Homo sapiens: one gene and its partner. The protein of the gene in region 1 purifies or fractionates together with the protein of each later gene. This does not show direct contact. Each region holds a gene or a part of one and is shown in the gene's direction. Other genes may lie near its edges.

Evidence for each region.
Region 2: the proteins of TIMM8B (region 1) and AFG2B purify together in Homo sapiens (co-immunoprecipitation; 2 studies listed by IntAct, with this or other methods). This does not show direct contact.

Annotation. Positions count from the first base shown.
Region 1 is NC_000011.10:112,084,184-112,091,884, reverse strand, and holds TIMM8B (mitochondrial import inner membrane translocase subunit Tim8 B), read left to right. Parts: upstream 1-5,128; 5' UTR 5,129-5,161; coding exon 5,162-5,245; intron 5,246-5,574; exon of another isoform or gene 5,575-5,918; intron 5,919-6,422; coding exon 6,423-6,590; 3' UTR 6,591-7,085; downstream 7,086-7,701. Other genes in the region: SDHD (succinate dehydrogenase [ubiquinone] cytochrome b small subunit, mitochondrial isoform a precursor), read right to left, coding at 2,874-3,018, 3,912-4,028, 4,926-4,977. UniProt on the Homo sapiens protein: Probable mitochondrial intermembrane chaperone that participates in the import and insertion of some multi-pass transmembrane proteins into the mitochondrial inner membrane.
Region 2 is NC_000015.10:45,419,119-45,422,002, forward strand, and holds the end of AFG2B (ATPase family gene 2 protein homolog B), read left to right. Parts: intron 1-1,924; coding exon 1,925-2,092; 3' UTR 2,093-2,297; downstream 2,298-2,884. UniProt on the Homo sapiens protein: ATP-dependent chaperone part of the 55LCC heterohexameric ATPase complex which is chromatin-associated and promotes replisome proteostasis to maintain replication fork progression and genome stability.

The DNA of each region.
Region 1 (7,701 bases):
ATATTGGCCAGGCTGGTCTCAAACTCCTGACCTCATGATCCGCCCGCCTCGGCCTCCCAAAGTGCTAGGATTACAGGCGTGAGACCACGCCTGGCCGATTCAGACTATTTTTTAAAGAAAGAACAGAACTGATGGAATAAGTGGGGTAAGAACAAAAAGAAATATCTAGAATGACTCCTAAGAATTTTAGTTTGAGCATAGCTTTGAGAAGGGGGTTTTAAAGGAGAAATCAAGGGAGATTTGGGGGGAAAAAAGAGCGATTTGGCCAATGTTAGATCTGGGATAACTATCAGACATCCAAGTGGATGTCAATTAGACAATTAGATAAACAAGTCTGCAGCTCAGAAAAACAGGTCAGATCTGAGCTCACCTAAAAAAGGGTACAGATGGAGAAATTAAGAAGGCCATGACTCAGCCCTGGAGATTTTGTCATCTCGAGGTCAGACAAGAGGAGAAGGATCTGGCAGAGGAGACTTCTATGCATCTGGAAAGCCAAAGAAAAGTGACTTATGGGGAGAATTGTTAATTGAGTTGAAGGCGGCTGAGACTTCAAGCAAGTGGAGGGCAGAAAATAGACAACCGGATTTGGAAAGATGAAGGCCTTCAGTGCCCTTGGTAAGAATAACCTAAGTTATATAGTTGGGATAAGACCCCAATTAATACAGGCTAAAAGAGACTCAGTGTTGAGGAAGTGGAGCACATTATAGACAGCTCCTTCAAGAGGGATGACATGTTAGAGAAATATTACTTACTGTACTTGTGATCTAATATTTCATATGCAACTGGAATCTTTTATTTGGAAAGGTCTGTGTGGTTAAAAAACAACATCAACAACAACAACTCATTCTCCTAACCAGTCCTACAAAACCAGATAATTAAAACCCCTTTAGGCTGGGCACGGTGGTTCACACCTATAATCCCAGCACTTTGGGAGGCCAAGGTGGGAGGATCACTTGAGGTCAGGAGTCCAAGACCAGCCTGGACAACATGGTGAAACCCCGTCTCGATTTAAAATACAAAACTGAGCCAGGTGTGCTGGCGCATGCCTGTAATCCCAGCTGCTTGGGAGGCTGAGGCATGAGAATTGCTTGAACCCAGGAGGCAGAGGTTGCAGTGAACCAAGATCACACCACTGCACTCCAGCCTGGGTGAGAGTGAGACTCCGTCCCAAAAAAAAAAGAAAAAAAAAATCTTTAACACTAGCTAGAAAATGATTCTGACAAGTCACTTAACCTCCCTGGGTCTTAGTTTCCAAATCTGTAAAATAAAAGAGTTGGTTAAGATACTCTCCAAAGTACTTCCAGTTTCAACAATCCGAAAGTGGCTCCCTACCCCCCACAATGACAACATATTGTCCCTTGCAAAACTTAAAAAGAACAACTCAAGGAACCCAACCTGTCATTTACCCTCATTTTAGAAGGTTCATTACGTAGAAAGTCATACAAACTATACCAGATAAAATAAACAAAAGCTGGGCCGGACATGGTGGCTCACGCCTGTAATCCCAGCACTTTAGGAGGCTGAAGCGGGCAGATCACCTGAGGTCAGGAGTTCCAGACCAGCCTGGCCAAAATGGCGAAACCCCGTCTCTACTAAAAATACAAAAAAATTAGCCGGATGTGGTGGTGCACGCCTGTAATCCCAGCTACTTGGGAGGCTGAGGCAGGGAGAATCGCTTGTACCTGGGAGGCGGAGGTTGTGGTGAGCTGAGATCACACCATTGCACTCCAGCCTGGGCAACAGAGCGAGACTCTGTCTCAAAAAATAAACAAACAAACAAACAAACAAACAGGCGCTGGATGCTCATTCATTCAGCAAGTATTTACTGAGTGCTATATGTCACGTACCAGAGAGTAGTTCTAGGCTCTAGAGGCACAACAGCAAACAAATACAGTAAAAATAACAAAATAATCCACCCACATACATCTCTTTTTTTTTTTTAAGAGGCAAGAATAAACTATACTATTTAGGGATATACATTTGGGTGATAAAATGCAAGGAAGCAATTACTATATAAAATAATGAACAGATGATGTAGTATATTAGAAGGCAGTAAGTACTATTGAGAAAAATAAAACAAGCAAGAGAGATAAGGAATGGCAGGACAGAAACTGCAATTTTGAATAAGTGGTTAGGGAAGGCTTTGTTGAGAGAATGGCATTCAAGACCTGAAGGAGATGAAGGAACAAGCCAAGTGTATAGCTAGAAAAAGAGTTTCAGGCAGAAGCAGTAAGAGAAGCCCTGAGACCTGGAATGTCCCTGGCATGTTCAAGGAATCTCAAGGAAGGCAGTGTGAATGAGAGAGAGAGCAGCTAAAAATGAGGGAAGAAACAGGGTGGTTCAATCATGTAGAGTCTACAGACAACCCTAAGAATTCTGACTTTGAGTAACATGAAGAGACAAAATAGGGTTTTGAGAAGGGGAATGTCTTATTCTAATTAACATTTTAACAGGATCACTGGGTATGCTGTGTTGGGAATGAACACAAATGGGAACCAGTTAGGAGACTACTACTAGAGTCAAGGATAATGACCAAGTTTGGAGCTTACCAGGTTTAGACTTGAACAAAGAGAAAACTGGAAATGCCATTAATTCAGATGGGGCAAGAGTGCAGGAGGAACAGATTAGGGGAGATCAGAAATTCAGTTTGACAGGCTACATTCAAAATGCTATTAGATACGGAAATCGAATTGAAAGACATTGAATAGGCAGGCAGATATATAAATCTAGGCATATACATATTTTATATATATTTTAAAGTTTTCAACAAATTTAGGGCATTTCAATCAACTTCTCCCTCATATATAATACATAAGACAAGCTCACAGCAAACAAACTGAGCAGACAACTATATTTGGAATTGCTATACTTGCCAGTGACCATGAAGAGTGAGGGCTGCAGCCAGGGAATAGTCCATCGCAGAGCAAGGATTCAAATAAGCAGCCGGAAGCAGACCCAGGAGCAAAACACTGACAACCCTCTCGCTAGTCCAGTGGAGAGATGCAGCCTTGGAGCCAGCTACAAAAAGGACCAGATTCATAAAAGTTGATGTGAGAAACACACATCTTTCATGTTCAACATATGCCACACAGTAACCCAAACTGACAGGCAGTGTACATATAGGATATAACTCTGAGTACAAAGGAAGTAAAATATCAAAATAGTAGTTGAGAGAAGCTATCTCTGTTTTTTGAAGGCTTTATCTCTGTTTTTTGAAGTCTTTTAGCACAAGGGTATCTCAATGCCTACATATTGATTAGAAGACAGATCCAAGAAGATGGATAAAAAACAGAATTGCTGTATTGCTACAGAATTAAGCCAGTCTTGGTTCAGTGAAGTGAACAGACACCTTATGAATGTAAGTTAGTGGTCCAGGCGTGGTGGCTCACGCCTGCAATCCCAGCACTTTGGGAGGCTGAGGTGGGCAGATCACCTGAGGTCAGGAGTTTGAGGAGGTCAGGAGTTTGAGACCAGCCCGGCCAACACGGTGAAACCCGTCTCTACTAAAAGTACAAAACTTAGCTGGGCATGGTGGTGGGCGCCTGTAATCCCAGCTAGTCGGGAGGCAGGGGCAGGAGAATTGCTTGAACTCAGAAGGTGGAGGTTGCAGTGAGCCGAGATCGCACCACTGCACTCCAGCCTGCATAACAGAGCGAGACTCTGTCTCAAAAAAAAAGAAAACAAAAGAAAAAAATTTGTAAAGACTTAGGCTAGAAGGTCTTCTATGATTATAAATGGCATCATTCAACCATAATGGCACTGTCTGCCCAAAGGTGTAAACTAGGTCTTCATTTGACAAAGTTGGACACAAGAGTCCCCCCTACAGGTAGGAAGTCCTGCTAAAGGCATGACCATTAGTGAAGGTAAAGATGGCTAGAGCCCAGAAAGCAGCAGCGATGGAGAGAACATACAATGGTGGCTCGGTGACAAGTGTATGTGCTGCACTCCACACCATTCTGGGATAGGTCGGTCCTGAAGAAATGCTGAGATATGAGCAGGTCTGACCACTGGAGTTCGAAGCAACAGAGCTGAGGAAAGAGTCATTAGGATGATCATAAGAACCTCTCCTTTAACAGGACTGACAAACTTTCTAAATGACCATAGGTAAGCTACTTAACAATAAATAGGGGATAACATCTTATTTGTAAAATGAAGATAGCATCTATTTCACTGGGGTTACTGTGAAGTTAAGACCAGGGAACATCTGCATGTTCCCTACTTTATTTAATGACACCTCAGGCATTCTTTAACCTAACTCAGTAATCTGGAAATCATGAGAGACTTTTCCCCTAAATTCAATCGCCAAATCCTATTGGCGTATCTCTTTAACAGTTCTTGAGACAATCTTCTTTTCTTTGTGCTACTTTCCTAGTTCAGGACCTCATCTTGCCCGGACTACTATGACAGTGTTTTCCTCATCAGAATGAAAGCTCGTTGAGGGCGGGAACTACGTTTTCTTCACATTTGTATCCTAGCATTACTACAGTACCTGAGGTAACACAAATGCCCAGGTTAAATGATTTTCGAACTGATCCCCCCTCCACTCCCACATCCAAACACACCAACTCCAGAAGAAATGGGCAAGCTCCTAACCCTCTTTCCCGACTCAGGGTGGGAGCGAGTGGGGAGCATTCTAGGGACAGTGAACGGGGAGAAAACAGAACTGCTATGTGGATTAGCCTCATCAGGACTGCGACTTCCAGAGGGAGCTCTCTTTCTGATTATTCCCTCAACTCGTCAGCTCACAGCAAGTGAAATATACCTTCGGGTAAACATCTGGACCCCTAGACTACAGTGGTCATTGCTGTGATTTCGGTATTTTCTTCTCCTCAAGAGATCTCCCACCCGGCAGATGAGTCCTCACTTCCATCCCCTTCCCTGGCTGGAGGCTACGCTAAGCACCTCAGGGTGGGAAGACCCCTCACCTCGGCCTCCTAGGGCACCGCAAACGGCACTCAGCCTCCAGAGAACCGCCATCTCGTTCCTGAGGGCTCAAGGTCATCCACCAACCCGGAACCACTTAGGCGACAATTCCCACCCACGACGACGAAAGAAAACAGGGAAGAGGAAATGCTGGGTGAACCGGAAGTCGAGAGGCGGTGCACACCCGTCGCGCATGCGCAAACACAGCTGTCGGAAGGTGGCGAGCCTGAGGCGAACAATGGCGGAGCTGGGCGAAGCCGATGAAGCGGAGTTGCAGCGCCTGGTGGCCGCCGAGCAGCAGAAGGCGCAGTTTACTGCACAGGTGCGGGGACGGGGAGGGTGAAGGGAAAGGAAGTTTCACCTTCCTTGGTGGTCCTGGGCACGCTCGGAGGTCTGTACACTGGCGGCTCACTGGTGCTCGATCCCGGCTGCATCCCATTCCCCTCACGAAAGACAAAGTTATGGCTCTCCTGTCCCTGGTGACCGGTAGTGCTCAGGTGCCAGGTATATAAGCGTAGCGTGGAGAAAAGAAAAGGTGTAAAACAGGGAAGATTTGGGCGACGCAAGGGTACGGGAGACTAGTTAGCCGGCGACATGACTGGGCTGGCATTCGAAAGATCTGGGTTCTCATCCTCCCTCTGCTCCTTGCAGGCCACGTGCCCGTAGAAAAGATACTCATCCACTGTGGGTTTTGGTGTCGCCGTCACCCCACTGCCTCACTGGATTGTGAGGATCATATGCGACAATGTATTTGAAAACGACTAGAACATTATCGGAGGAAGGTGGACTCTGAAGTAGTCGCTGTAGACTATGGATGTAGAACAAGGGTTTGGAGCCCTTCGGACATGGTTCTAACGCGGCCTGACTTCTTGCTGGCTACATGACCTTGGACTACATAATCACGCCTCTTAAATGGGAGGTGATGACAGCTATCCTTGAGGACCTTAGAGAGAACTGATTTCTTAGTACCCAGCCTCACAAATAGTAAGCTCTTGGTAAAATGGTTTTTTCCTTTTGGGTGGGAGGAAGAGGGTGCTCGGATGACCAGCAAGAACCCTGGCTAGAAATCTTTGGGCCCTGAACATTCTAATGACAGTGCACATAATTTCTGTGCCTGTATGTGCATTTTTCTGGGGAGTGGATCCATAACCCCCAAAAGGTTAATGGAAGAATTACCTTGTCTAGGGGATAGGTTTGGAATAAAATGAGTGCAATAGTTTGGGAAAATTAATTGGTTCCCTAGTTGGTTCACAATGGTGCTAGCTACTTTGGGGAATATAAAAGGTTATTAGTCCTACCTGAGAATGTACAATCTGTAGGGACGAGGATCTGGATCAATATTGGTGACTAATTAGGAAATGAAGAAAGAGAAGAGCCCAAAGTGACTCCGTGGTTGATTTAAAGAATGGTTTTGTCAGGTGTCAAAAAGTGAGAAGTTAATAAACAAGAGTTAGGCCTATCTGCAGACCCCAATGGTTACTATTTTTCTTTCCTTTTAGGTGCATCACTTCATGGAGTTATGTTGGGATAAATGTGTGGAGAAGCCAGGGAATCGCCTAGACTCTCGCACTGAAAATTGTCTCTCCAGCTGTGTAGACCGCTTCATTGACACCACTCTTGCCATCACCAGTCGGTTTGCCCAGATTGTACAGAAAGGAGGGCAGTAGGCCATCCCCCAGGAGAATGACAGAAGCAAAGGACTTGTTACTAAGCAGATTTAAGGGTCAGTGGGGGAAGGCTATCAACCCATTGTCAGATCAGCATCAGGCTGTTATCAAGTCTGTTGGTGCTAAAAAGTAAAAGATGAAATGTTCAAAGAGTGAAATTTATTTATTTGGAATTCAGAAATTCCAGGTTGTATGACATCAGTTACTCAATAAGTGTGAATTCTCCAACTCTTCTTTTAATCCCATTTTAGAATTTAATATAGAGATCTCTGATTGGCAGGAACACTAGAAATAAATGTTCCATGGCCAGTAGTGCAAATGGGGGATTGTAGGTTTTGAAAAACCACCCTAAGCCATATTAAGGGGGTTGGAAGAACCATCGAAGCCTAAGGCATAGAAGAAAATTTGGGGTTAAGAAAGATGAAGAACAAAAAACAGCTTTATTGCTTATACATGACCAAGAAAAGGAAAACATGGCAAAAAAAAAAAAAAAAAGGCAAGATGTGTATTCCTTGCGAAAGAACAAGCCTGCTAACTTGGGAGGAAGGGAAGGTCAGGACCCAAATAGAGCCAATTTCCTGGAGATGGCCTGTTCTACTGGCACATTTTCCTGAGTCTGTGCTTAAAACCTTTCAGGTACTTTCAGGGCACAGAAACAATGCATGCTAAAAAATATATGGCCAAAGCTCCTTCCAACAAAGATTTAACTTGCTCCAGGAACAAAATAATTGCTTTAGGTTAAGAGGTAGTAATTAGAGACTATTCTTCTCCCTTTAGACCCCCACTAATCCCAAAAATAAAAATACACACCATGGAACACTGACAATTGAGTACCAAAGTATTAAAATTTAAAATAAATATCCCAAAAGGTAGCACCTGCTCATAGTTAAGGGATAGGGCACCTCTGTCCAACCATGTATTTTAAGACCAAGCACTTTATTAGAAATCTGTCCCGTAAAGAGAACAAATTTAGCAGTTAGAACTAAAAATACCAACTCATGGAATGTCATCATAGTTGTATCTACTGCTGGTGTCTTATACTGTCATGCTACTGTGAAGTAATTCCGTATTACACATCAGGAAAGTAAGGCCAGGAAGGTGAACTTACCTG
Region 2 (2,884 bases), on another chromosome or scaffold:
ATTGAATCTTAGAGTGGAGAATGGCAAGAAATAAAGCGAAAGAAGTGGGCTAGGCGTGGTGGCTCGTGCCTGTGATCCCAGCATTTTGGGAGGCCAAGGCGAGAGGATTGCTTTAGCCCAGGAGTTTAAGATCAGCCTGGGTAATACAGTGAGACCCCATCTCTAGAAAAAATAAAAAATTAGTCAAATGTGGTGTTAGTCCCAGCTACGTGGGGGACTAGTAGTCCCAGCTACTTGGGAGGGGGAGATGGGAGGATTGCTTGAGCCTGGGAAGCGAAGGTTGCAGTAAGATGAGATCGTGCCGCTGCACTCCAGCCTGGGTGACAGAGTGAGACTCTGTCTCTTAGGAAAAAAAAAAAGCTGAAGGAGTAGACAATGGCCAGGACACACGGGTCCTTGTAAACCACTCTAAGATACCCTTTTTCGTAAACTTTTACTAAATATAACATTCAGAAAAATGCACGGATCATAAGGGTACAGTTCATTGAATTAAAGTGATCACATTTTTATAATCACTACTTATGTCAAGAAATAGAACATTATAAACACCCCAGAATCTTCCTTTGGGCCCTTTCCCAACCTCTGTCACCTACCTTCTTCCAAAAGAGAACTATTGGCTGGGCTTAGTGACTCATGCCTGTAATCCCAGCATTTTGTTGGGGCCAAGGCAGGAGGATCATCTGAGCCCAGGAGTTGAGACCAACCTGGGCAACATGGGGAGACCCTGTCTCTACAAAAACTTTTAAAAAATTGTCCCAGCTACTCAGGAGGCTGAGGTGGGAGGATCACTTGAGCCTGGAGGTCAAGGCTGTAGTGAGCCATGATTGTGTCACTGTACTTCTGCCTGGGTGACAGAGCAAGACTCTGTCCCCCCCCCCCAAAAAAAAAAAAAAAAACAAAAAACAAAACAAAAGGGAACCACTCTCCTGACTAACAACAGTGGGGATTAGTTTTGTCTGCTTTTGAACTTTATATGAATGGAAGCATGTGGCATATGTTATTTTCTGTCTGGTTCTTTAACCTAAAAAGAAATTTATCCATAGTTTTGTGTGTAGCATAGTTTATAATATTCTAGTATATGAATATTCTACATTTGTTTATCCATTCTTTTATTTTGGAATATCTGGGTTTCTACTTTTTTGCTATTATGAGTTATGCTGCTGTGAACAGCCTTGTACATGTCTCTTAGTTCCCGTGTCTATTTATGTCTATTTGTAAACATAGTTAGCTACAAGGAGAATTGCTGGGTCATAGGGTATGTGTTTGATCTATTCCTTTATAATCAGTGCTGGCTGAAGACTCTTCCCTACTTAACGATCAGGAAGATATTCTCTCATCTTTAAAAATACATATGGGTTCATAAAATACATATTAATCTGCAACTTGCCTTTTCTTTCTTCTCATTTAATGCTTTCTTTTTTCCCATTAATGTAAAGAGGTTATGGTCTGCAAAGTGGATTTCTAATCACCTTATTTAACTTTTTAGCATAATGTTTTTAGTGACATGAAAATTAGAATCCTATGAAGTGAGGCTGAGATTTTCCATTCAGAGTTTAAAGTATTACCATATATTGTTAAAAAAAAAAGAAAAGAAGCCAGGCGCTGTGGCTCACACCTGTAATCCCAGCACTTTGGGAGGCTGAAGCAGGTGGATCATGAGGTCAGGAGTTCAAGATGAGCCCGGCCAACATGGTGAAACCCTGTCTCTACTAAAAATACAAAAATTAGTTGGGCGTGGTGGCAGCCTTCTGTAATCCCAGCTACTTGGGAGGCTGAGGCAGGAGAATTGCTTGAAACCAGAAGACGGAGGTTGCAGTGAGTCCAGATCGTGCCACTGCACTCCAGCCTGGGCAATAAGAGCAAAACTCCATCTCAAAGAAAAAAAAGCAAAAGAAATTGTTTTCTATTGCTTGTCTCTTAATAGGCTGCTTTGCTGGCTCTGCAAGAAAATGGACTAGACGCAACTACAGTGAAACAAGAGCACTTTCTAAAATCACTTAAGACTGTAAAACCGTCGTTAAGTTGCAAGGACTTGGCTTTATATGAAAACTTATTTAAGAAAGAAGGATTTTCTAACGTGGAAGGTATTTAAAAATCACCTTAAACTCTTGTTCAGTTCACATTAATTGAAATGTGAACTTGCCTGTCGTTTGCAACTTCACACTTTTAGAATTTGTGTTTATATTTCCTGTAAGTGAATAAATAAAACAAAACAAAACAAAAAAAACTTGTGCCTGATAAGCTAAGGCTCATTTATTTTTAAAAGGCATATTAAATAAAATACTGTAATTTAGGAAGAAAGTGTGTGTGTGTTGATTTTGTTGTAAGGGGTGGTTGGTTTTGGGTGATTGCTTTTTTATTAAACCCTGAAATAATTTCATACTTACAGAAAAGTTGCAAAAATAGTACAAAGAATTTTTATGTGCTCAAACCCAGATTCACTAATCTTTAACATTTTGCCACATTTGCTTTCTCTGTCTTCCCCACCCCTTGTACATATACACATACACACATTTTTTTTTGAGTGGTTTGAGAATAGATTATATACATAATGTCCCTTTCCCCCCTTAATACTTGAGTGTGTATTTGTTACAAATAAGGTTATTATATGACCAAATTCAGCAAATTTAATACTGACACAGTATTTTAATCTATCATCCAGTGAATTTCATGTATGGTCACAATAACGTCCTATATGGTAATTTTCCCCATTACAGGATCCAGTCTAGGATCACACATTTCATTTAGTCACCATGTCTCTTTAGCCTCTTAACTTGAAACAGTGTCTCAATCTTTCTTGACCCTGACATTTTTGAAGAGTATAGACCAATTATTTTATTGAGCAGTTCATTCCTGGACTTGTAGTTGATGTTTTATCATGGTA